3 separate regions of the Homo sapiens genome follow, and regions 2 and 3 are each linked to region 1. Evidence: fine-mapped expression QTL. A gene starts in region 1. Each other region holds a variant in brackets. All regions are shown on one strand. Distances are between the middles of the regions. Region 1 holds the start of MPI (mannose phosphate isomerase). Region 2 has its middle 4.7 kb from the start of COX5A. Region 3 has its middle 7.7 kb from the start of FAM219B.

Region 1 (8,179 bases):
CAGCTGCAGGGCTAGGGAAAATCTCAGAATGCCTAGGTGGAAGGCATCCTAAGAGTCCTCTATGCCAGTCTGCCTCCAACCATCTGGAGAAGATGACCAGTTGGGAAGCAGCACTCAACTAAGAAGGGCCCTGCTCCACAAAGACTAGGCAAGCAATGCTAAGTTGCCAACAGGTCATCTAAGTGGGGCCCCTTTTAGTGTTCCACTTGGGCAAGGGGGTTGAGAACTGTCCCCAGAGTCTGGTGTCTGCTGGGAAGCCCAGGCCAGAGCATTGCACCCAACCAGGAATATAACTGTGTCCACCTTGCTGGGAGATCCGCTTCACCAACAGGTTGAGCTGTTCCACCACCACCTTCTTCTCACTCTTCATCAGGTGGGAGAAACAGCTCTGCAGAGAGGAGGCCACAGCCTGGGAGTCATGGCTCATGGTCTGCTTCAGGTGTGTTGCTGCCTCATCTCCAATCAGGAACTGAAACTCAGGCACCTCTACAGGAAGGCAAGGCCCAGGGCCCATATCAGGAATGGTAAGATGGAACCCACACAAGTGGGGAGTTGGAGGACACCTTTCCATCCCAGCCCTAACCAAAGAGCCGGCAATGCTAAGTAAACTTTGCAGTGGAAACCAATCACTCACCACCAGCCCTTGACTACCACACCTGAGCCTGGTCTCACTGGCCTGGCTCACTGGCTCCAAAAACTGCTTCATGAGGCCCTTCAGTTCCTGTGACATGTGACCCGTTCTCAGCCACTGTTCCTATCATCTTGGTTCCCCAGGTATCCCTGGCCCAGTACGCATGCCTTCAGCATTCTGCCCAACTTACTCTTTAGAAAGGTTACAATCTCCTCAACTGGCCGGAAGCCACACAAGCCCTGGAAGGGGGTGAGGGCAATGGCCATCTCTGGCTTGTGGTTGGCATCGGGGTAGTGCTGCGGAGCCTGGAGGTGCAGCTTCTCTGCCAGCTCCTGTGGGGTGGCCAGGGGAAGAGGAGGATGGTGAGGGTACAGCCATTACCTAGCAGGTACACCAGTGCCACCTAGCCCCTGCTGTCCACCCTCCCCAGTTGCAGGATGGCAGTGACTACCTACCTCTGGCAAGGAGCCCAGTCAAAGCATGTTGCAGAAACTTGGGGCTCAGCCAACCCAGGGCAGGGGCAAATCAGGGGCAACCCCGGGGCAAATCAGGGAAAAGCTGGGGCAGACTTTAAGAGGCTTGGCCTGTGAATCAGGAAACCCAAATACCAGACCAAGCTCTGACACTAACAAGCTGTGTGGCTTTGGTAAATCCCTCCCTTCTCTGGGTCTTACTTTGTGTATCTAGAAATAAGGAGTTTTGGCTGGGCATGGTGGCTCACGCCTGTAATCCCAGCACTTTGGGAGGCTGAGGCGAGCGGATTACGAGGGCAGGAGTTCAAGACCAGCCTGGCCAACATGGTGAAACCCCATCTCTACTAAAAATACAAAAATTAGCTGGGTGTGGTGGCGCGTGCCTGTAGTCCCAGCTATTTGCGAGGCTGAAGCAGAAGAATTGCTTGAATTGGGAGGAGGAGGTTGCAGTGAGCCGAGATCGCGCCACTGCACTCCAGCCTGGGCGACAGAGCAAGACTCAAGTCTCAGAAAAAAAAAAAAAGGAGTTTTGATCCACAGTTGCTTAGGATGGGACTCCGGCTTGTGTAGGGAGACTCCATGGGGGTGGGGCTGAGGGTACCTGCCCTGCCTTGCAAGTTGAACTCTTCCTGAAAGCAGATGAGTAAATGGCAGATATGAATAGACATGGGTTGGATGAGGGAAGACCAGGAACAAGCCCCTTGGAATGAGCTTAGAGAAACTCCCCTGGCACAGGCCGGTGAGCTGTTTGCTTAGACTTAGTTGCTGCATGTGTCACTACCATCTGGCTTTGCAGAGCTAAATTGGGAGTTGTCAGCCTGGATTTGGCCTTGGGCAGGAGCCTGGCATGGGTGGGGTAAAAGTGGCAGTAAAAGTCACGGGAGGGCCTTAGCATAAGCCCTTCTGTACCCTGACCTCTGCACCGCACTCTGTCCTTTACCTTGTTAGGGTGTGCCTGGATGGACAGGGGTGTTTCAACTGAGAGCACTTTGAAGAGGAAGGGCAGGTTGCCATTAAAGGTGTCCTTGACCTTTGAGCCCAAGCTGTCCTGGTTCTCAGCAATCCACTGGCTTAGGGTCTTCTGTGAGATGCGGTTGTCAAGGATCTTGGCATCCCCTCGGGGGTGAGTCCCCATCCACAACTGGAAAGACAGGAAACTTGGGAGGGGAAGGGGGAAGAAACCTGCCACCCTGAGTTGGCCTGTCCCAATCCGTTATGCTGTGCTCCCCACAGGGCAACTGAGTCCTGGGAAAGGCCTCCCAGGTCTGGATACAAATGTTCATGCCATCATGGACATACAGGGAGGCAGTAGACCCAGGCCCTTGTCCAGACTCGGCCTCTAGCCATCTATGAAGACTTGGACTAGTTATTTCCCTTCTTTAGATGTATCTTCTTTGTCTGTCCAAAGAGGAGAATGACATCTGCACTGTCAAGGTAGCAGAAAAACTATGACTCTTAAATGATTCTTTCAGGGGTTAACATACATCTTCCAGTTTCAGAAGCAGAGGCGAAAGCCTTCCTATGCTTTGGCTTTTTCTCCACTAAATAGGCAGGAGAAATATTTTAGGTTAATAAAAATGCAAAAAAATAGTCAAAGTAAAAAAACTTAATTGTCAAAGAGGGCTGAATTAAAATTCACTAAGTGCTAAGAGTGGTTGGGGGAAGGAGAGTGCTGGAAATCCCAGCCTATTATGACAAAACCTCTCTTCTTTTTGATAACACTATCTAGTCCATTAGCCTGAAGAGCCAAGTGGGTCTCCTCCCTCCTTGCTGCCTCACCCTTCCCAGCTGATTCTTATGACTTGCCTCAGGCCCTTTCTCCTGACCTGCGGGTAAAGTGGGCTGAAATACAGCCCGGGGCTCACCTCTGCATAAGGCTTGTCCTCTGCGATCTGGGCCAGTGGATCACTGCTGGCCAACAGCCGCGCCACTTCGCTGTTGGAACCCATCTTCCCCCAGGCATACTGCTGCACCGCACAGGAAAGTGGGAATACTAGGGGCACAGACAGGGTCAGCTGCCACTCCACTCCTCAGGCCCCACCCTAGTGTCCCGGGAAACCAGGCAAGAGCTGGGGGTGCTCACTGGGGACAGAGTCAAATAAGGGTTTTGTAGGCTGTTGGATGAGACCCCCCTCCGCTGCAGGCCTCGATGTTCCCAACTGTCAGATGGGCAGCAGTAAGGACCTTGTGCTGATCTGAGGCAGGGTGGCGGGGAGGGAGCAGAAGGTACCTATCCCACGGCACGACGTCTAGAAGGGCCCCCTCCCCTCGGAGGTCAATCCCCATCGCAGGTGGCCACACCTCTGCCCGGCACCCACCCATCTTTCCGCGGAATGCCAGGAGCGGACTCAACCTGGCCGATAATGCCGGGAGTCGTCCCCAGGACGCGCTCCACGAACACACTCGCCGACACCCCAGCCAATGGCTCACCTCGCGGAGCGGCCATGCTCGCCCCCTGCACCAGGATTAAGCACGTATGCCTTTCCCGGCAGCCCCCGCGGCCCTCTGCGCCCAGAGCTTCACGGGAAATGTAGTTCCCTGAGCGTTCCGCCAGGCCCCGGGGCACCCGTGCCCAGAGGCTTACGGCCGCGATCTTCGGTCTCACTATTCATTCATTCTTTCCATCGCCGGGCACAGATGTACTGAAAACCTGCTAAGTACCACGGACTGTTCTAAGGGCTGGAGGATACATCAGAGAGCAAGATAGCCTTCCCTCTGCCTTTGTAGAGCGCTTACATTCTGGTGAAGGCAAGACAGACAAGTATTGTAAGCAAATCATGTAGTATGTTGAAAGGTCAAGGCCACAAAAAGTAAGGGGGCAGGTGGCAGTGGGAGGCAGTTTGCAGAATATAAAAGGCTGTCTGGGCAAGCCTCTTGAGGAGGTGAGGTTTGAGTCCAGACTTGGCGGTGAGGAAGGCAGGAGTGTTCTGCGGGGAGGAAACAGCCACAGCGGAAGCCAGAGCAAGGCGGGAATGTGGGACTGTGCCGGGCGTGTTGGGGAGGGAACTGCTAGCAAGGAGGCCACTGTGGCTGGAGCAGAGTGAGTAAGACAGGGGCAGTGAGGAGGTCAGAGAAGAGAGGAGGGGGGCAGAGCTTTGCAGGCTATTGCTATTGTGAAGACTTTGGGTTTTACTTCGAGTCTCAGCAATTACAGATTTGAGCAAAGAATTGCTGTGATGTGAGTAGGGACATACTAGTGATGATGATGGTAAATGTCACATGCAAGGCCCTTCACTGCTCTGAGCTTTGTAGAATGGGGTGAATAATGCCAGCCTGACATGCTTGTTGGAGGGTCAGATGGGATGACGTGAGACACCTATAAGGCAGTCAGCTCCCTGTGCTCCTCTGATCCTTCCCGTCCCAGGTGCTGTAGAAAGTCAGAACCCCAACTTCTACTCCAGGCTGAGCTGCTTACAAGTTGCACACACAGAAGTCAGGGGAATTACGAAGAGCTGTGCATAGGGAAGGATGGCCTTGGGCCTTGGCTCTGCAGTAATCTTGGCTATATCCTGTGGTGAAAGGCTTTGACATCCAGACCTTCTCAGTCAACAGCCTCCTAGGAGGAGGACAGTCAGTGGCTCAGGCCTGTAATCCTAGCACCTTAGGAGGCAGAGGCAGAAGGATTGCTTGAGGCTAGGAGCACAACAGTCAAAGCTCCGGGGAACCTGGAATGAGGAGTTACAGTCCTGACTCTACCCTCATCACCCCTGCAATACCCTCATTCCCACAGCCTCTACCATATGTGCCCAGGGGAAAGAGCGGGTGCCGTTTTCCCTGTAATCCTCTGCCCAGGTGTGGGTATCTATCTCACCTCCCCTGGGGTCCTCTGGCTCAAATAAATCAGCTTGCATTTTAAAGGAAGCTTTACCATGCACTAAGGAATAATAAAATGGATAATACAAGACTCATGACAGCCCCCCGCCTGGCCAGCCGCCCCGTCCGGGAGGGAGGTGGGGGGGTCAGCCCCCAGCCCGGCCAGCCGCCCCGTCCGGGAGGTGAGGGGCGCCTCTGCCCGGCCGCCCCTACTGGGAAGTGAGGAGCCCCTCTGCCCAGCCAGCTGCCCCGTCCGGGAGGGAGGTAGGGGGGTCAGCCCCCCGCCCGGCCAGCCACCCCGTCCGGGAGGTGAGGGGCGCCTCTGCCCGGCCGCCCCTACTGGGAAGTGAGGAGCCCCTCTGCCCGGCCACCACCCCGTCTGGGAGGTGTACCCAACAGCTCATTGAGAACGGGCCATGATGACAATGGCAGTTCTGTGGAATAGAAAGGGGGGAAAGGTGGGGGAAAGATTGAGAAATCGGATGGTTGCCGTGTCTGTGTAGAAAGAGGTAGACATGGGAGACTTTTCATTTTGTTCTGTACTAAGAAAAATTCTTCTGCCTTGGGATCCTGTTGATCGGTGACCTTACCCCCAACCCTGTGCTCTCTGAAACATGTGCTGTGTCCACTCAGGGTTAATGGATTAAGGGCGGTGCAAGATGTGCTTTGTTAAACAGACGCTTGAAGGCAGCATGCTCGTTAAGAGTCATCACCACTCCCTAATCTCAAGTACCCAGGGACACAAACACTGCGGAAGGCCGCAGGGTCCTCTGCCTAGGAAGACCAGAGACCTTTGTTCACTTGTTTATCTGCTGACCTTCCCTCCACTGTTGTCCTGTGACCCTGCCAAATCCCCCTCTGCGAGAAACACCCAAGAATGATCAATAAAAAAATAAAAAATAAATAAAAAAAAAAAAGACTCATGAAACAACGTACTCAATACCTCGTGCTTTGGAATACCACTCCTTTCCCTCATCTCCACTACCCAAGTGATATGATTTGGCTCTGTGTCCCCACCCAAATCTCATCTTGAATTGTAATCCCCACATGTTGAGGGAGGGACCTGGTGGGAGGTGATTGGATCATGGGGGTGGTTTCCCCCATGCTGTTCTCATGATAGTGAGTGAGTTCTCCCAAGAGCTGATGGTTTTAAAGTGTGGCACTTTCTCGCTCTCTCTCCTACTGCCATCTAAGATGTGCCTCGCTTCCCCTTTGCCTTCTGTCATGATTATAAGCTCCTGAGGCCTCCCCAGCCATGTAGAACTGTGAGTCAATTAAACCTCCTTTCTTTTTTTTTATTTTTTCTTTTTGAGTATTGAGTCTTGCTCCGTTGCCCAGGCTGGAGTGCAGTGGCATGATCTCAGCTCACTGCAAGCTCTGTTTCCCAGGTTCAAGTGATTCTCCTGCCTCAGCCACCCAAGTAGCTGGGTGCACACCACCATGCCCGGCTAATTTTTGTATTTTTAGTAGAGGCGAGGTTTCACCATTTTGCCCAGGCTGGTCTCGAACTCCTGACCTCAGGTGATCCACCTGCCTTGACTTCCCAAAGTGCTGAGATTACAGGCATGAGCCACCGCGTCAGGCCAAACCTCCTTTTTTTTTTTTTTTTGAGATGGAGTCTCACTCTGTCACCCAGAGTAGAGTGCAGTGGCACGATCTTGGCTCACTGCAACCTCCGCCTCCCGGGTTCAAGCGATTCTCCTGTCTCAGCCTCCCAAATAGCTGGGACTACAGGCACGTGCCACCATGCCCGGCTAATTTTTGTATTTTTAGTAGAGACGGGGTTTCACCATGTTGGCCAGGCTGGTCTCAAAATCCTGACTGCAGGTGATCCACCCACCTCAGCCTCCCAAAGTGCTGGGTTACAGGCATGAGCCACCATGCCTGGCCCAAACCTCCTTTCTTTATAAATTACCCAATTCAGGTAGTATCTTTATAGCAGCATGAAAACGGACTAATACACCAAGCAATAGGAACCTTCTCAGATAAGAACGAGGGACTAATGAGGCTCAAGGAGTTCTTGGAGCACTCCCCACTACCACTACCACAGAAAACAGAGTCAGGGTTATTTGCTCATAGTATCCCTGCAAAGTGAAGGAAGAACTTAGATTGTTGGGAGATACAGACCACCCCCCAACCCCATGCCACCCTCCCCCAATACAGAAAAACTTATCTGTAAGAGAAACTAGGGTGTTTGGAGAACCTAGAACCTTCTACTTCTTCCCTCTTGCTGGTCTATCTTGAGAAAAGAGATTTTATCTGAGGAATGTGCATCCTTTTATATTATCAGGCCCAGAGAGACATTGATATGGAGGACAGACCCTTCTTAGGTGCCCCTCTGGCCCGCAAGTATGGAGATAAAGGGAAAATTTTGAGTCCCTTCAAGGGAGATTTCAGGAACTAGCTAGCCCTGCACCCAGCAATTAGGGAAGTAAATGAATAACCCACCAAGGAAGAAGGTAATAGTAACTTAAGCAGCCACCCAAGTAAGCCAGAGTCACAAGATGTTTAGTTCTCTATAAAAACTAAAGATAGGGGCTGGGCGTGGTGGCTCATGCCTGTAATCCCAGCACTTTGGGAGGCCAAGGCGGGCAGATCATGAGATAGAGTTCAGGAGATCGAGACCATCCTGGTTAACACGATGAAACCCCGTCTCTACTAAAAATACAAAAAATTAGCCGGGCGTGGTGGCAGGCGCCTGTAGTCCCAGCTACTCGGGAGGCTGAGGCAGGAGAATGGCAGTGAGTGGAGATCGTGCCACTGCACCCCAGCCTGGGCGACAGAGCAAGGCTCCGTCTCAAAATAAAAAAAAAAACAAAAAAACAAACAACAACTAAAGACAGAGTGCAGTGGCTCAGGCCTGTAATCCTAGCAGTTTAGGAGGCAGAGGTAGAAGGATGGCTTGAGGCCAGGAGTTCAAGACCAACCTGGCCAACATAGCAAGATCTCATTACTATTTAAAAAAAAATGAAAATAATATCTTGGCCAGGTGCAGTGGCTCACACGTGTAATTCCAACACGTTGGGAGGCCAAGGCGGAGGATAACTTGTGTCCAGGAATTCAAGACCAGCCTGGGCAACATAGCAAGACCCTGTCTCTAAACATACTTTAAAAATTAGCTGAGGGTGGTAGCACATGCCGGTAGTCCCAGCTACTCTGGAGGCTGAGGTGGGAGGATTGCTTGAGCCTGGAAAGTCGAGGCTGCAGTGAACTGTGATTGTACCACTGCACTCCAGCCTGGGTGACAGAGTGAGACTGCATC
Region 2 (8,179 bases), 53 kb before region 1:
CCAGTCCAGCCTGGGCAACAGAGGGAAACTCCATCTCAAAAGCAAAACAAAAACAAAAAACCAAAAAAGAAAACGAAACAAACAAACAAAAAACAGATTACCTGGGCTAAACTCTAAACCAACAGGATCAGATTCTCCCAGGAGGGACCTGGGAATACACATTGTAATAAGATCTTCAGCTGATTTTGATGGTTCATCAAGATTGTTTATTCTCTGAGATGTTATGTAGCCACATTTACAGTGGTAAGAGAGACACAAAATTAAATCCCCTTCTTTTGCTTTTCACCTTCAGTAATGGTTTGAACATGTTTCTGGAGAGAAACACTGTTAAATAACTGCCACAGCCTGGGTTGGTGTCGCAACCTGTAGTCCCAGCTACTGGGGAGGCTGAGGCAGGAGGATCACTTGAGTCCAGGAGTTCAACACCAGCCTGGGCAAAATAGCCAGACCCAGTCTCTTAAAAAATAAAAAGCAGGCAGGGCGCGGTGGCTCACGCCTGTAATCCCAGCACTTTGGGAGGCCGAGGCAGGCGGATCACGAGGTCAGGAGATCGAGACCATCCTGGCTAACACGGTGAAACCCTGTCTCTACTAAAAATACAAAAAAATTAGCCAGGCATGGTGGCAGGCGCCTGTAGTCCCAGCTACTTGGGAGGCTGAGGCAGGAGAATGGCGTGAACCCAGGAGGCGGAGCTTGCAGTGAGCTGAGATCATGCCACTGCACTCCAGCTTGGGCGACAGAGTGAGACTCCATCTCAAGAAAAAAAAAGGCATTAGGATATAGGATACAGACGTGTTCACACAGACGAAAGACCATGTGAAAACAGGGAAAAAAGATGTCTATTTATAAGCCACTCACAAGAAACAACTGGGCTGGATGTGGTCCATAATCCCAGCACTTTGGGAGACTGAGGTGGGAGGATTGCTTGAGCCCAGAAGTCCAAGGTCGGCCTGGCAACATAGCAAGACCCTGTCCAAAAAATTGTCCAGGTGTAGTAGTGTTCACCTGTAGTCCCAGCTACTTAGGAGGCTGAGGCAGGAGGATCACTTAAGCCCAGGAGTTCGAAGCTGCAGTGACCTATGGTCATGTCACTACTCTCCAGCCTGGGCAACAGAGTGAGACCCTGTCTCTAAAAAAAACAAGACAAAGAAACAAAAAATCAAACTAATCTCGAAATTTAATTGTCATTGTGTTGGTGTTGGGAGGTGGAACCCTTAAGAGGTTTTTAGGTCATGAGGGCTCTACCCTCATGAATGGACCAGTGCCATTATTGCAAGAATGAGTTCTTGGCCAGACGCGGTGGCTCATGCCTGTAATCCCAGCACTTTGGGAGGCCAAGGTGGGCGGATCACCTGAGGTCAGGAGTTTGAGACGAGCCTGGCCAACATAGAGAAACACCGTGTCTGCTACAAATACAAAATTAGCTGGTCATGGTGGCAGATGCCTGTAATCCCAGCTACTTGGGAGGCTGAGGCAGGAGAATTACTTGAACCCAGGAGGTGGGGGTTGTGGTGAACCGAGGTCGAGTCATTGCACTCCAGCCTGTGGGGGGAAAAAAAGAATGATTTGTTCATCAAGGGAGTGGGTTCACCCCCTCTTGCATTCTCTGCCCTTCCACCATGTGATGCCTTCTGCCATGGGATGATGCAGCAAGAAGGCCCTCACAAGATGCCAGCACTTTGATATTGGACTTCTCAGCCTCCAGAAATATAAGCCAATACATTTCTGGTCATTATAAATTACCTGTACAAAAATTAGCTGGGTGAGGTGGCACATGCCTGTGGTCCTAGCTACTCAGGAGGCTGAGATGGGAGGATTGCTTGAGCGCAGGAGGTCAAGGCTGCAGTGAGCCAAGATCTCACCACTGCACTCCAGCCTGGGTGAGCCTGTCTCAATAAATAAATAAATAAATAAATTACCGAGTCTCAGGTATTCTGTTATAGCAACACAAAACAGACTAAAACATCCCCATCTCACAACTTGCCCTGCCCCGCTACAATTTTACAACAAGAAAATGCTCTTTTAGAGAGCAACAGTAAGCATTTATTGAGCTGTTACTGTATACCAGCCAGGACATAGTGTTTTATGTGCATTTTCTGAGGTAATCGTCCCAACAATCTATTAACCTATTAGGTAGGTTCCATTATTATCCCATTTTTTATTTGTTTTGTTTTTTGTTTTTTTGGAGATGGAGTCTTGCTCTGTCGCCTACGCTGAAGTGCAGTGGCGTGATCTCGGCTCACTGCAACCTCTGCCTCCCAGGTTCAAGCGATTCTCCTGTCTCAGCCTCCCAAGTAGCTGGGACTAAAGGCGCGTGCCACCATGCCTGGCTAATTTTTTGTTGTTGTTGTTGCCCAGGCTGGAGTGCAATGATGCAATCTTGGCTCACCACAACCTCCACCTCTCAGATTCAAGCGATTCGCCTGCCTCAGCCTCCCCAGTAGCTGGAATTACAGGCATGCTGGCATACTTGGGAGACTGAGGTAGGAGAATCGCTTGAAGCCGCGAGGCGGATTTTGTATTCTTAGTAGAGACAGGGTTCTCCATGTTGGTTAGGCTGGTCTTGAACTCCCAACCTCAGGTGATCCTCCTGCCTCGGCCTCCCAAAGTGCTGGGATTACAGGCGTGAGCTGCCACACCCGGCTATTCCCATTTTTTAGACAAGGAAACAGTGGTTCAGGGAATTGGAATAATTTGCCCAAGGGCATAAGGCAGAACTGTAGTTTAATAGCGGTGAGGGTGTCATTCTCTTGGGTGACTTTTTTCATTAGGCTCTGTTTTCGAAGCAGTCTAGTATTGAGATCCTGTTCACTGGAGATGCTCCTCAAGTAGGGGCCTGAGGAAATGGAAACCATGTAGACTCAGTAGACTAATGGCCTCGGGGGCCACTTTCAGTCTTTTTTTTTTTTGAGACAGAGTCTCACTCTGTCGCCCAGGCTGGAGTGCAGTGGCGCTATCTCGGCTCACTGCAAGCTCCGCCTGCCGGGTTCACGCCATTCTCATGCCTCAGCCTCCCAAGTAGCTGGGACTACAGGCGCCTGCCACCACACCCGGCTAATTTTTTGTATTTTTAGTAGAGATGGGGTTTCACTGTGTTAGCCAGGATGGTCTCGATCTCCTGACCTCGTGATCCGCCCGGCTCGGCCTCCCAAAGTGCCGGGATTACAGGCTTGAGCCACTGCACCCGGCCCCCACTTTCAGTCTTAAAATGGTAGGATTCTTTCATTTTTTTCCCCCTCTTTTTCCTGAGCACATGCTTAATTCCCACCAGAGAAAATAAGAGCTTTTCTAGCCTGGTGCGGTGGCTCATGCCTATAATCCCGGCAATTTGAGGGACCAAGGCAGGAGGATTGCTTGAAGCTAGGAGTTTGAGACCAGCCTGGGCAACATAACAAGACCCTATCTCAACAAAAATGTTAAAAAAATTAGCCGGGAATGGTAGTGCGTACCTGTAGTCCCAGCTACTTGGGAGGCTGAGGGGGGAAGATTGCTTTAGCCTAGGAGGTCAAAGCTGCAGTGAGCCATAATTCTGTCACTGCACTGTAGCCTGGGTGACAGAGCATGACCCTATCTCAAAAACATAAAAAAGAAAAGAAAAAGAAAAGAGAAGAAAAAACAAAAAAAAGAGCTTTTCTTGCACGTGAACTTAACCGTTACTAGAAATTCACATGGTGGAACAGTGTCTTTATCCTCACAAACTCCTCAGTAATGTCATTCCATCCCCCACACACATCAGAGGGACTGCCTCATCACAACTTTTCCAGAATGAAGGCCCTGAGCTGTAGCAGAAAGCTGATAGGCTGATCCACTGGTGACGATGACATTTCTGAGCCATCAGAAGTCCAGCTGTTGTGTTTTAAAAAAAGAAGAAGAAGCAAAAGTCCAGGTGTGGCTTCTCCAGAGGGACAGCGAAGGATTTCAAGGTAGGAAATGGCAGGAAGAGATAAAAGACCCTGAAGACCTTGAGTAAGAACCAGGATGTCTGCTCTGAGCCCATCAGGGAAGGGGTACCCTCCAGAAGCAATGGGATGGGCTTCAACCTGTGGACACATCTGGGGGCCAACTAGGAAACAAGCAAGGGCCCCCGTGCCTTAGTGATATGGTAGGCTGAATTCAAAGATAGCCCCAGGATTCATGCCCCCTGTTTACATGCCCTTGTACAATCTCCTCCTCTTGAGTAGGGGGCAGAATCTGTGAATTTCTTTAGATATCATTCCCAAGACTAGTTTACTAGTCAGTCTACTTTGAGTGAATCAAAAAGTTACCCTGGTGGGCTTGACCTAATCAGGTGAGGTCTTTTTTTTTCTTTTGACTGAGTCTTCTGTACCCCTGGCTGGAGTGCAATGGTGAGATCTTGGCTCACTGCAACCTCTGCCTCCCGGGTTCAAGCGATTCTCCTGCCTCAGCCTCCCAAGTAGCTGAGATTACAGGTGCCCACCACCACGCCCTGCTAATTTTTGTATTTTTAGTAGAGATGGGGTTTCACCATGTTGGCCAGGTTGGTCTCGAACTCCTGACCTCAAGTGATCCGCCCACCTTGAGATGAAGTCTTTAAAAGCAGGTAAAGTGTCAGAGAGACACTTTCCTGCTGCTTGGAATAAATAAGCTCCAGGATTGTAAGAAGGGCCTATGGAGAGAGCCAAGTGGAGAGGACATCAGGGCACTCTCTAGGAGTTGAGAGTGTCCTTGGCTGACAGCTACCGAGAAGAAATGAGGACCTTGTCCCACCACTGCAATGAAATCAATTCTGCCAACAACCTGAATGACCTTAGAAGAGGCCTCTGAGCTCCAGATGAGATGTCTAACCTAGCCGTGATCTTGATTTCAGTCTTGTGATAACCAGTAGAGAATTCAGTTATGCTATACCTGATAAATTGTTAGGCAGCAACAAAAAATGAATGCAGGCAATTAGGGCTGTGGACTGCTCTCAAGGTAGCAGAGAATTCAGAACTGACTGAAAGACAAGCAAAACCTACCTTCAGCAGTGGT[A/G]GGGAAAGAACAATTTCTGGAGTCAGACAAGTGGGGACTAAAACCTAACTACCACTATTTGTTAGCTGTATGATTTTTGGCAAGTATCCTTTAAGTCTATTCCTTTATCAATAAATCAGGGCTAGGCCGGGCATAGTGGTTCATGCCTGTAATCCCAACATTTTGGGAGGCCAAGGTGAGAGGATCACCTGAGGTCAGGAGTTCAAGACCAGCCTGGCCAACATGGTGAAACAGCGTCTCTACCAAAAATACAAAAATTAGACGGGCATGGTGGCGAGCACCTGTAGTCCCAGCTACTCGGGAGGCTGACGCAGGAGAATCACTTGAACCTGGCAGGCGGAGGTTGCAGTAAGCCAGGATCACACCACTGCACTCCAGCCTGAGCGACGGAGCGAGACTCCACCTCAAAAAAGAATAATAATAAAATAAAATAAATTTTGAAAATAGGGATAAAAACTTATCTCACAAGGTTGTTATGAGGCATAAATGGGATAATAGTTTGTGGCATGTAGTGGCACATTGTAAATTATAGTCATAATTGTATTTTAAAAAGAAAAAAAAACACTTCAGCAGCCAATCTAAGTGACTGTAGGCAAAGTGGAGGGATTCTGACAGCAGGGAGACCAGCTGGGATTCAAGCAATATAGCCCAGTGCTTTCTTACTTGCTTTTCTTACTTTTCTTACTTTCTTACCCTGACCTCATCTTAAGCTTCCAGCCTTGGAGATTTGATGAACACTAATTGAACTGCAGAGAGGTCAAAGGTTTCCCCGTTGCCCTTTGGCCAGTGTAGGGGCAGAAAGGGGTGATCCTTTTCCTCACCATCATAAGGGTCATGGCTGACACTCCCATAACAAAAGACAGGTTAAAAAGAAAAAACCATAACAAGTTTACTTGATCATAGTTTTATGTGACATGGGAGGCTTCAGACTGAAGACCCATAGATACAAGGAAAATCGTCCTTTATGCTTAGGTTCAATAAAGCATATGTAGAATTGTGATTGGACAAAAAGGGTCCAAGCTAACGGAAATGGATTGAGTGGGAAAACCCAGCAAAGCCTGTCTGTTCAAATCCTTCTGGCCTCTCTTTTGTAGCATTTCTTCCTCCCTGTCCTCCCTACTACTGGAACGAGTGTCTTTTCTTTCTTTTTTTTGGAGATAGAGTTTCACTCTTGTTGCCCAAGTTGGAGTGCAGTGGCAAGATCTCGGTCCACTGCAACCTCCACCTCCCAGGTTCAAGCAATTCTACTGTTTCAGCTTCCTGAGTAGCTGGGATTGCAGGCATGCACCACCATGCCCGGCTAATTTTGTATTTTCAGTAGAGACGGGGTTTCTTCACGTTGGTCAAGCTGGTCTCAAACTCCAGACCTCAGGTGATCCCCCCACCTCAGCCTCCCAAATTGCTGGGATTATAGGCATGAGCCATCGCGCCCAGCCTTAACTTCTTTTTTTCTTTTTTTGAGACGGAGTCGCACTCTGTCACCCAGGCTGGAGTACAGTTGTGCGATCTCGGCTCACTGCAACCTCCACCTCGCGGGCCCAAGTGATTCTCCTGCCTCAGGCTCCAGAGTAGCGTGCGCCACCACACCCAGCTAATTTTTGTATTTTTCGTAGAGACGGGGTTTCACCATGTTGGCCAGGATGGTCTCGAACTCCCGACCTCAGGTGATCTTCCCACCTCAGCCTCCCAAAGTGCTGGGATTACAGGCATGAGCCACCATACCTGGCCATGTTTCCTTTTCTCCTTTTTTTTAAAAAATTTTATTTTTGAGACGGAGTCTAGCTCTGTCACCCAGGCTGGAGTGCAGTGGTGTGATCTCGCCTCACCGCAACCTCCACCTCCTGGGTTCAAGTGATTTCTGGCTAATGTTAGTAATTTTAATAGAGATGGGGTTTCACCATGTTGGCCAGGCTGGTCTCAAACTCCTGACCTCAAGTGATCTCCTGGCCTTGGCGGCTCAAAGTGCTAGGATTACAGGCGTGAACCACCGTGCTCGGCCTTAATTTCTTTATGGCCAGCTGTTACATAGAAAGGCAAAGAGAAAGGTTAGAGCAATATTTTTAGGCTTTATGGCTGGCTTTGGGACAAAGGGGTTCTACTTTCTAGACCCCCTCTTGGGGAGGAGGGATTCTAGTTTCTGTGGCATGCCTGGAGGGAGAGTAAGGGGCAAGAGACAAGAGGGCAGAAGGTCAGAGAGAAACTGCTTCATAGGCCTTCACTTTGTGGTATTGTTTTCTAAGCCCCAGCACTAGGTTGGTGGGAAACGGTGAGGGCAGGTGCTTTGAAAACATTTTAAAAATCCTTTTCCCCGCCAGGTTCCTACCCACTGAAGCCACACTGCTAGGGAGGAAAAAGAGAAGGGCAGATGCTGAGGCCCTGGAGAGTCGGCCTGAAGTGAGGAAGTGGCACATGAATGGCCACCTTTTCTTTCCTCAGTGTGCCCAGGGATAGAGAATGGGAGACAGCAAGACAGAATACAATGTCTCATTAACTCTGGGCAGCATCCAGATACTTCAGGCCTGGGAGAGGTGTCCTTGACTGCCCAGGGGCTCAAAGTTAGGATGTAGCTAGTGAGATAAGATGCAACAACTGTGGAACTTGATCAACCCTATTTCAGAGCCATCGTGGATTCAGGAGCCCTCCTGTAGGAGATGGGAAACATTCAGGTGAGAGTCCTCAGAACTGGGGATGTGGCGAAAAGATCCTTGACTGCCAGCAGCAACCTAATTTCTGAGCCTCTTTCCTAATCTGTGAAATGAAGTAGTTTAACTCATTTTTTATGCAAGCTGGTTTGTGATATAAGAATATGTACTAATAAAATCCCTTACGCATAGGCCTTTTTTTTTTTTGAGATGGAGTTTTGATCTTGTTGCCCAGGCTGGAGTGCAATGGTGCGATCTCAACTCACTGCAACCTCTGCCTCCTGGGTTCCAGCAATTCTCCTGCCTCAGCCTCCCAAATAGCTGGGATTACAGGCATGCGCCACCACACCTGGCTAATTTTGCATTTTTAGTAGAGACAGGGGTTTCTCCATGTTGGTCAGGCTGGTCTCGAACTCCCGACCTCAGGTGATCCGCCCGCCTTGGGCTCCCAAAGTGCTAGGATTACAGGCGTGAGCAACCGCGTCCAGCGGCATTCTTTCCCCCATTCGCTGTTTTATTTTATGCCACAATGAGAAGGCGGGGCTAAG
Region 3 (8,179 bases), 25 kb before region 1:
CTAAGTGAAGCAAGTAAGCATATACAGATGCTCAGCAAAATTTTTTTTTTTTTTAAGACAGAGTCTCACTCTGTTGCCCAGGTTGGAGTGCAATGGCCCAATTTCGGCTCACTACAACCTCCCCCTCCCGGGTTCAAGCAATTCTTGTGCCTCAGTCTCCCAAGTAGCTGGGATTACAGGCATGCACCACCATGCCCTGCTAATTTTTGTAATTTTAGTAGAGATGGGGTTTCACCATGTTGGCCAGGCTGGTCTCGAACTCCTGACCTCTCAGGTGATCTGCCTGCCTCAGCCTCCCAAAGTGTTGGGATTACAGGCGTGAGCCACCGCGCCCAGCCAGATGCTCAAGAAATTTTAATTTCTTGGCCATGTTTTTGTGGGCGGTTGAGGCCAAACTGCAGGAGGCGAAGGAGTGATCTTAGGCAATGAGAGTGATTTGAAAGATGGTGAGGGTTGAGGCATTGGCTTTTCTTTTACAAGCAGAAGATTTATTTGTAGCTGGATAGAACTAGTAGATGGAAAGTGATTCTTGTTGCCTTTGCTTTTTTTTTTTTTTTTAATGTGTTTTTGTTTTGTTTTGAGACTGTCTTGCTCTGACACAGGCTGGAGTGCAGTGATGTGATCATGGCTCACTGTAGCCTCGACTTCCCGGGCTCCAACAATCCTTCCGTCTCAGCCTCCAGAGTAGCTGGGACCACAGGCGTGCACCTCCACACATGGCTAATTTTTGTGGTTTTGGTCTCATGTTGCCCAGGCTGGTGTCAAATTCCTGAGTTCAAGCTCTCTGCCTGTCTTGGCTTCCCAGAGTGCTAGGATTACAGGCGTGAGCCACCACAGCTGGCCTCCTTTGTATCTTAGGTAAGGTTGAGATTTCAACATTTTATTTTATCTGATTCACTCATGTATACCCTTAGAAGGAAACGGGTACTCTGGTAAGTTTTTTGTTTGTTTGTTTGTTTTTCTAAGACGGAGTCTTGCTCTGTTGCCCAGGCTGGAGTCCAGTGGCACAATCTCGGCTCACTGCAACCTCTGCCTCCCAGGTTCAAGCGATTCTCCTTCCTTAGCCTCCTGAGTAGCTGGGATCACAGGCATGTGCCACCACGCCTGGCTAATTTATTGTAGCTTTAGCAGAGATGGGGTTTCACCATGTTGGCTGGACTGGTCTTGAACTCCTAGCCTGAAGTGATCCGCCCACCTCACCCTCCAAAGTGCTGGGATTACAAGCATGAGCTACTGCACCTGGGGTGCTCTAGGAATTTTTACTTTTTTTTTTTTTTTTCGAGACAGGGTCTTGCTCTGTCACCCAGGCTGGAGTACAGTGGTGTGGTATCAGCTCACTGCAACCTCTGCCTCCTGGGCTCAAGCAATCCTCCTATCTCAGCCTCTGAGGAGCTGGTACTACAGATGCATGCTACCACACCCAGCTAATTTTTGTATTTTTTTGTAGACCACGTTGCCCAGGCTGGTATGGGTTTTTTGTGTTTTGTTTTTCTTTTGAGACAGAGTTTTGCTCTGTCGCCCAGGCTAGAGTACAGTGGCATGATCTCGGCTCACTGCAAGCTCTGCCTCCCAGGTTCATGCCATTCTCCTGCCTCAGCCTCCCGAGTAGCTGGGACTACAGGTGCCCGCCACCACGCCTGGCTTATTTTTTGTATTTTTAGTAGAGACGGGGTTTCACCGTGTTAGCCAGGATGGTCTCAAACTCCTGGACTCAAACGATCCACCTGCCTCGGCCTCCCAAAGTGCTGGGATTATAGGCGTGAGCCACCGTGCCCGGCCTGGTATGTTTTTAAATGGTTGAAAAATCAATGAAAAATATTTCGGCCAGGCGCGGTGGCTCACACCTGTAATCCCAGCACTTTGGGAGGCTGAGGCGGGTGGATTACAAGGTCAGGAGTTCGAGACCAGCCTGGCCAATATGGTGAAACCATGTCTCTACTAAAAATATAAAAATTAGCTGGGCATGGTGGCACGCACCTATAGTCCCAGCTACACGGGAAGCTGAGGCAGAAGAATCGTTTGAACCCAAGATGTGGAGGTTGCAGTGAGCCGAGATCATGCTGCTGTACTCCAGGCTGGGCGACAGAGCGAGACTCTGACTCAAAAAAAAAAAAATTTTTCATAATATATAAAAACTGTATGAAATTCAGAATATGGGCCGGGCATGGTGGCTCACACCTGTAATCCCAGCACTTTGGGAGGCCAAGGTGGGTGGATCACAAGGTAGGAGATCAAGACCATCCTGGCTAACATGGTGAAACCCCGTCTCTACTAAAAATACAAAAAATTAGCCGGGCGTGGTGGCGGGCACCTGTGGTCCCCACTACTCCGGAGGCTGAGGCAGGAGAATGGCATGAACCTGGGAGGCGGAGGTTGCAGTGAGCCGAGATCATGCCACTGCACTCCAGCCTGGGCGACAGAGCAAGACTCTGTCTCAAAAAATAATAAATTCAAATATGGTGTCCATAAATAAGGTTTTATTGGAACACAGTCACACGCCCTCATTCATTTACATATTATCTGTGGCTTATTTTTTTGCCTTTTAGTAAATTATGGTAAGATCATACATAAAATTTACCATCTTGACCTTTTTTTTTTTTTTTTTTTTTTTTGAGATGGAGTCTCGCTCTGTCGCCCAGGCTGGAGTGCAGTGGCGCCATCTCGGTTTACTGCAACCTCTGCCTCCCAGGTTCACGCCATTCTCCTGCCTCAGCCTCCCGAGTAGCTGGGACCACAGGCATCAGCCACCACGCCCGGCTAATTTTTTATATTAGTAGAGACGGGGTTTCACCGTGTTAGCCAGGATGGTCTCAATCTCCTGACCTCGTGATCCGCCCACCTGGGCCTCCCGAAGTGCTGGGATTACAGGCATGAGCCACTGCACCTGGCCTCATCTTGACCATTTTTGAGTTTACAGTACAGTGGCATTAGGTACATTCACACTGTGCATTATCTATAGCTGCTTTTGCATTAAAATGACATAGTGAGTAGTTGGACCAGAGAGTACTATTTGCCTGTTTACAGAAAGTTTGCCCACCTTTACTCTAAAATAATAGAAATAATTTTCACAAGAAGCAAACTTACAAAAATCACAAGGCATGTTACTAGAAGGCAAAAGTGACTAGATAAATTCAATCTACTGGTGAATTTGTCTCATCAAACTTTCTTCACACACACACCCATTAGGCAAATTGAATCAACTTCTTTGTTGTGCTGGAAAAAGTAGGTACATCTTGGCCAGGCGCGGTGGCTCACGCCTGTAATCCCAGCACTTGGGGAGGCTGAGGTGAGTGGATCACCTGAGGTCAGAAGTTTGAGACCAGCTGGCCAACACAGTGAAACGCTATCTCTACTAAAAATACAAAAAATTTACTGGGCATGGTGGCGAGCGCCTGTAATCCCAGCAGGAGGCTAAGGCAGAAGAATCGCTTGAACCTGGGAGGCGGAGGTTGCGGTGAGCCGAGATCATGCCATTGCACTCCAGCCTGGGTAACAAGAATGAAACTCCATCTCAAAAAAAAAAAAAAGTAGGTACATCTTTTAGCTTGATGGATCCTAGCTCTACCTAAAGAAGTAGATGGGTTGGGTGCAGTGGCTCACGCCTCTAATCCCAGCACTTTGGGAGGCTGAAGCGGACGGATCATGAGGTTAGGAGTTCAAGACCAGCCTTCCCAACATGGTGAAACCCCGTCTCTACAAAAATTAGCTGGGCATGGTGGTGCACGTCTGTAGTCCCAGCCACTCAGGAGGCTGAGGCAGGAGAACTGTTTGAACCTGGGAGGCGTAGGTTGCAGAGAGCCGAGATCGTGCCACTGCATTCCAGCCTGGCGACAGATCAAGACTCTGTCTCAAACAAACAAAAGAAGTAGATGGTAAATATGAGGATCCTTCCACAGCTTGACTTGGATGGACAGGGCTTCTACCCTAACAGGATGGGGTCTCTAGCCTTTTTCTTTCCTACAGTTTGTTTTAATTAAGTTTCAAAGCAGGCCGGGTGCGGTGGCTCACGCCTGTAATCCCAGCACTTTGGGAAGCCGAGGTGGGTGGATCACGAAGTCAGGAGATCAAGACCATCCTGGCTAACACGGTGAAACCCCATCTCTACTAAAAATACAAAAAATTAGCCAGGCGAGGTGGCGGGCACCGGTAGTCCCAGCTACTCGGGAGGCTGAGGCAGGAGAATGGCATGAACCCGGGAGGCGGAGCTTGCAGTGAGCCAAGATGGCACCACTGCACTCCAGCCTGGGCGACAGAGCCAGACTCCGTCTCAAAAAAAAAAAAAAAAAAGAAAATAAATTTCAAAGCAATTAATAGTTTGTCACATTTGTTTATATGTTATATATCTACACAC[G/A]TCACTTCACCCCTGAATACTTCAGCAAAAATCTGAGAAAAAGGACTTTTGCCTCCTACATAAACACAATTCTGTTCTATTTCAAGAAGTTTAGCATCAGGCTAGGCGCAGTGGGTCACGCCTATAACCCTGGCACTTTGGGAGGCCGAGGCGGGTGGATCACCTGAGGTCAGAAGTTCGAGACCAGGCTGACCAACACTGAGACACCCTGTCTCTATTAAAACTACAGAAATTAGCTGGGCGTAGTGGCTCATGCCTGTAATCCCAGCTATTCAGGAGGCTGAGGCAGGAGAATCGCTTGAACCTGGAAGATGGAGGTTGCAGTGAGCCAAGATTGGCCATTGCACTCCAGCCTGGGCAACAAGAGTGAAACTCCGTCTCAAAATAAAAAAAAAAAAATAATAAGTTTAGCATCAAATACATACAGTTCATATTTCTGAAGAGTCCAGGCCAGTTGTAGAATGTCCTGTAATCTGCCTGTGTCTGTTTCCTAATTATTCAAATCCAGCTAAACATTTTTGGCAAAAATACTATGTGAAATTCCAATTGTATCCCCTCAGGAGGGACATGATGTCAGTTTGTCCTCATGTCTTTTTATTACATACACCTACCAGCTGATGGAAGGCAGCATAATGTAGCAGTAAGATGAGAAAATGGGGTTTGGATTCAGACTTGGGTATAAATCCCAGTCTACTGTATAACAGTCATATGACTGTGTATATGTTGCCTACACTTCTGTCCTTTTGTTTCCTTATCTGAAAATGGGAGCCACCTCACAAGGATATAACAAGAATGAAAGGTTAGCAGATTATGTTCTATTTGTTATAATCATTTTTTTGGTTGTGCTTGGGAAAATGGCTTAAGCCTAGTCATTCTCTCCTAAGTTTTGCTAACTATCACTTCAGTTTTTCCTGGCTGTTTGTTTAACTGGATGCCAGAGAGCTTGTCCTTAGCAGCAGAGCCTATTAGTCTATAGTCACATTTTGCAGTAACATTGTTTAGTTTGCCATTTTGCTGCATTGGAGAAGTTTGGTTGAACGCCAAGTGAGATGACTCTGTGCTGGGCTTGGCCTTTGTCTTAAACGGGTTTAGTGTGTTGCTGTAAAGGGATACCTGAGGCTGGGTAACTTTTTTTTGTTTGTTTTGTTTGAGACGGCATCTCGCTCTGTCGCCCAGGCTGGAGTGCGATGGCGTGATCTCTGCTCACTGCAACCTCTGCCTCCCGAGTTCAAGCGATTCTCCTGCCTCAGCCTCCCGAGTAGCTGGGACTACAGGTGCCCGCCCCCACGCTCAGCTAATTTTTATACTTTTAATAGAGACGGGGTTTCACCATGTTGGCCAGGTTGGTCTTGATCTCTTGACCTTGTGATCCACCCGCCTCGGCCTCCCAAAGTGCTGGGATTACAGGCGTGAGCCACTGCGCCCGGCCTGGGGCTGGGTAATTTTTAAAGTAAAGGGGCTCATGCCTGTAATCCCAGTGCCTTGGGAGGCCAAGGCAGGAGGATTACTTGAGGCCAGGAGTTCGAGACCAGCCTGGGCCACATAGTGAGACCCCCATCTCTACCAAAAAAATTTTAAAAACTAGCCAGGTACAGTGGTATGTACCTATAGTCCCAGCTACTCAGAAAGGTGAGATGGACTGATTGCTTGGGCCCAGGAGTTCAAGGATACAGTGAGCTATGATCACAGCACTGTACTCCAGCTTGGGCAACAAGGCAAGACCCCATCTCTTAACAAAAAATGTTTATTAGGCCGGGCACAGTGGCTCACGCCTGTAATCCCAACACTTTGGGAGGCTGAGGCGGGCGGATCACCTGAGGTCAGGAGTTCAAGACCAGCCTGACCAACATGGAGAAACCCCATTTCTACTAGAAATACAAAATTACAGGCGTGGTGGCACATGCCTGTAATCCCAGCTACTCAGGAGGCTGAGCCAGGAGAATCGCCTGAACTGGGGAAGTGGAGGTTGGGGTGAGCCGAGATCATGCCACTGCACTCCAGCCTGGGCAATAATAGTGAAACTTGGTCTAAAAAAAAAAAACGTTTATTAGCTCACGGTTGTTTTGGTTGTACAAGAAGCATGGAACTGGCATCTACTTAGCTTCTGGTGAGGGCCTCAGGCTGCTTCCACTCATGGCGGAAGGCAGAGGGGAGCAGGCTTGAGCAGAAATCACTTGGTGAGCGAGGAAGCAAGAGGAAGGGGAGATACCAGGCTCTTTAATATCTAACTCTCTTGAGATGGTGGGGCCACCTTTTCCTGGCCAGTTTATCCTGACCTATTCTGAATCCACCAAGGCCCTGAATCTCAGCTCCATCTCCTCCTCTGCCTCCCACTATACCCCACAGACAAAGTGGTCATTCCTTTCTGAAGAACAGGCTGAGACTTTTCTGGGACCTGCTCTTTCTGGAGCCTCTGATGTTCCCTGTCTGGGTCTCCACGTGCCTCCTTCGTGGTTCTTTGAGGAATCAGCTTCAATGTCACCTCCAAGTGTGATCTTCACTGATGACACAGCTCAGCACAGACCTGCCTGCTTCTCATTTATCTCAAGTAATTAACCAACCTACACCACGTGGCTGAATTCCCTCTCTCTGCACGTGTGTTTGTGTGTGTGTGTGGTCACACCATCTTATGTGACATTAATACCTAGTTATCTATACAGATAATATATATTCACACATAAATATATATCTAAGACTATCCCTATAACTAGTAAATTTCCACTGCTATGTTTTTTTGTTTTTTGGCTCCTTGGCTAAATCCACACTTCAAGAAAGCAGAGATAGTTTTTGTTTGTTTGTTTGTTTGTTTGTTTGTTTTGAGACGGAGTCTCACTCTGTTGCCCAGGCTGGAGTGCAGTGGCACGATCTCGGCTCCCTGCAACCTCCGCCTCCTGGGTTCAAGCCATTCTCCTGCCTCAGCCTCCTGAGTAGCTGGAATTACAGGCGCACCCCACCACGTCCGGCTAATTTTGTATTTTTAGTAGAGATGGGGTTTCACCACGTTGGTCAGGCTGGTCTCAAACTCCTGACCTTGTGATCCGCCTGCCTTGGCCTCCCAAAGTGCTGGGATTACAGGCGTGAGCCACTGCGCCTGGCCGCAGAGATAGTTTTTATGGCCCACTATATATATATAATTGATATTTTTTTAAAAACCCAGCTCTCTCAGGAACTTATAGAATAAGAACTTACCACCTTCAGAGAGAGCATTAATGTATTCGTGAGGGATCCACCCCCATGACCCAGATACCTCCTATTAGGCCCCACCTCCAACACTGGGGATCAAATTTAAACATGGGGTTTGGTGGAGACAAGCCACAGCAGCCCGCCACAGCTGTGGCCATACCTTTGCATATAACTGTGAGGACAATGGTGGGTCTGGTAACCTGGGAACCCAGAAAGACCTGCAGATTCATAGGTCCTATCTAGTTATCTGTACTCTACCAATAATGAGAGAAGTTCCTTGGGCTAGAGGCCACAACCTGGTGAGACAGTGGCTTCTGAGATGGAAGAGAGCTTGAAAGGGAAGTAGCAGGATAAAAAAAAAAAATCTCTGTCCTCCATCCCTTTTAATGTTTAACCCCAGATACTTGCCTGTATGAAGGAATTCAGCTCCAGTCAACAGCAGAACCAGAATTCTCAACTGATGATGGAGATGTATCTGTCCCAGGACCAAGAAAGTTTAGGGAATAACTTAGATTTAGAGCCAGGGATAAAGAGTAACTGCCCAATGAGGGTTCCAAAAGCCAGGGTAGTAGTCCTTGCTCCTAACAGCCAATAATCTCTCCCCGAGGATTCACTACCCCCCAATAACAAAGAAATAAGACTGGG

Evidence for each region. PIP is the estimated chance that this variant, and not a neighbour inherited with it, causes the effect.
Region 2: its variant is fine-mapped to the expression of MPI in whole blood (TOPMed, PIP 0.92).
Region 3: its variant is fine-mapped to the expression of MPI in whole blood (TOPMed, PIP above 0.99).

Annotation. Positions count from the first base shown.
Region 1 is chr15:74,885,445-74,893,623 of GRCh38, reverse strand. MPI (mannose phosphate isomerase) reads right to left here and starts at 3,582. Exons shown (of 8, transcript NM_002435.3): 1 at 3,535-3,582; 2 at 2,970-3,097; 3 at 2,045-2,245; 4 at 822-963; 5 at 304-486. The coding sequence starts at 3,550. RefSeq lists enhancers at 3,256-3,335, 3,133-3,666, 3,456-3,755, 3,916-3,965.
Region 2 is chr15:74,938,726-74,946,904 of GRCh38, reverse strand. No RefSeq gene overlaps it. Among named protein-coding and RNA genes, the nearest start is that of COX5A, 4.7 kb to the right of the region's middle. The variant A/G (reference allele first, on the strand shown) is at 4,990.
Region 3 is chr15:74,910,453-74,918,631 of GRCh38, reverse strand. No RefSeq gene overlaps it. Among named protein-coding and RNA genes, the nearest start is that of FAM219B, 7.7 kb to the right of the region's middle. The variant G/A (reference allele first, on the strand shown) is at 4,352.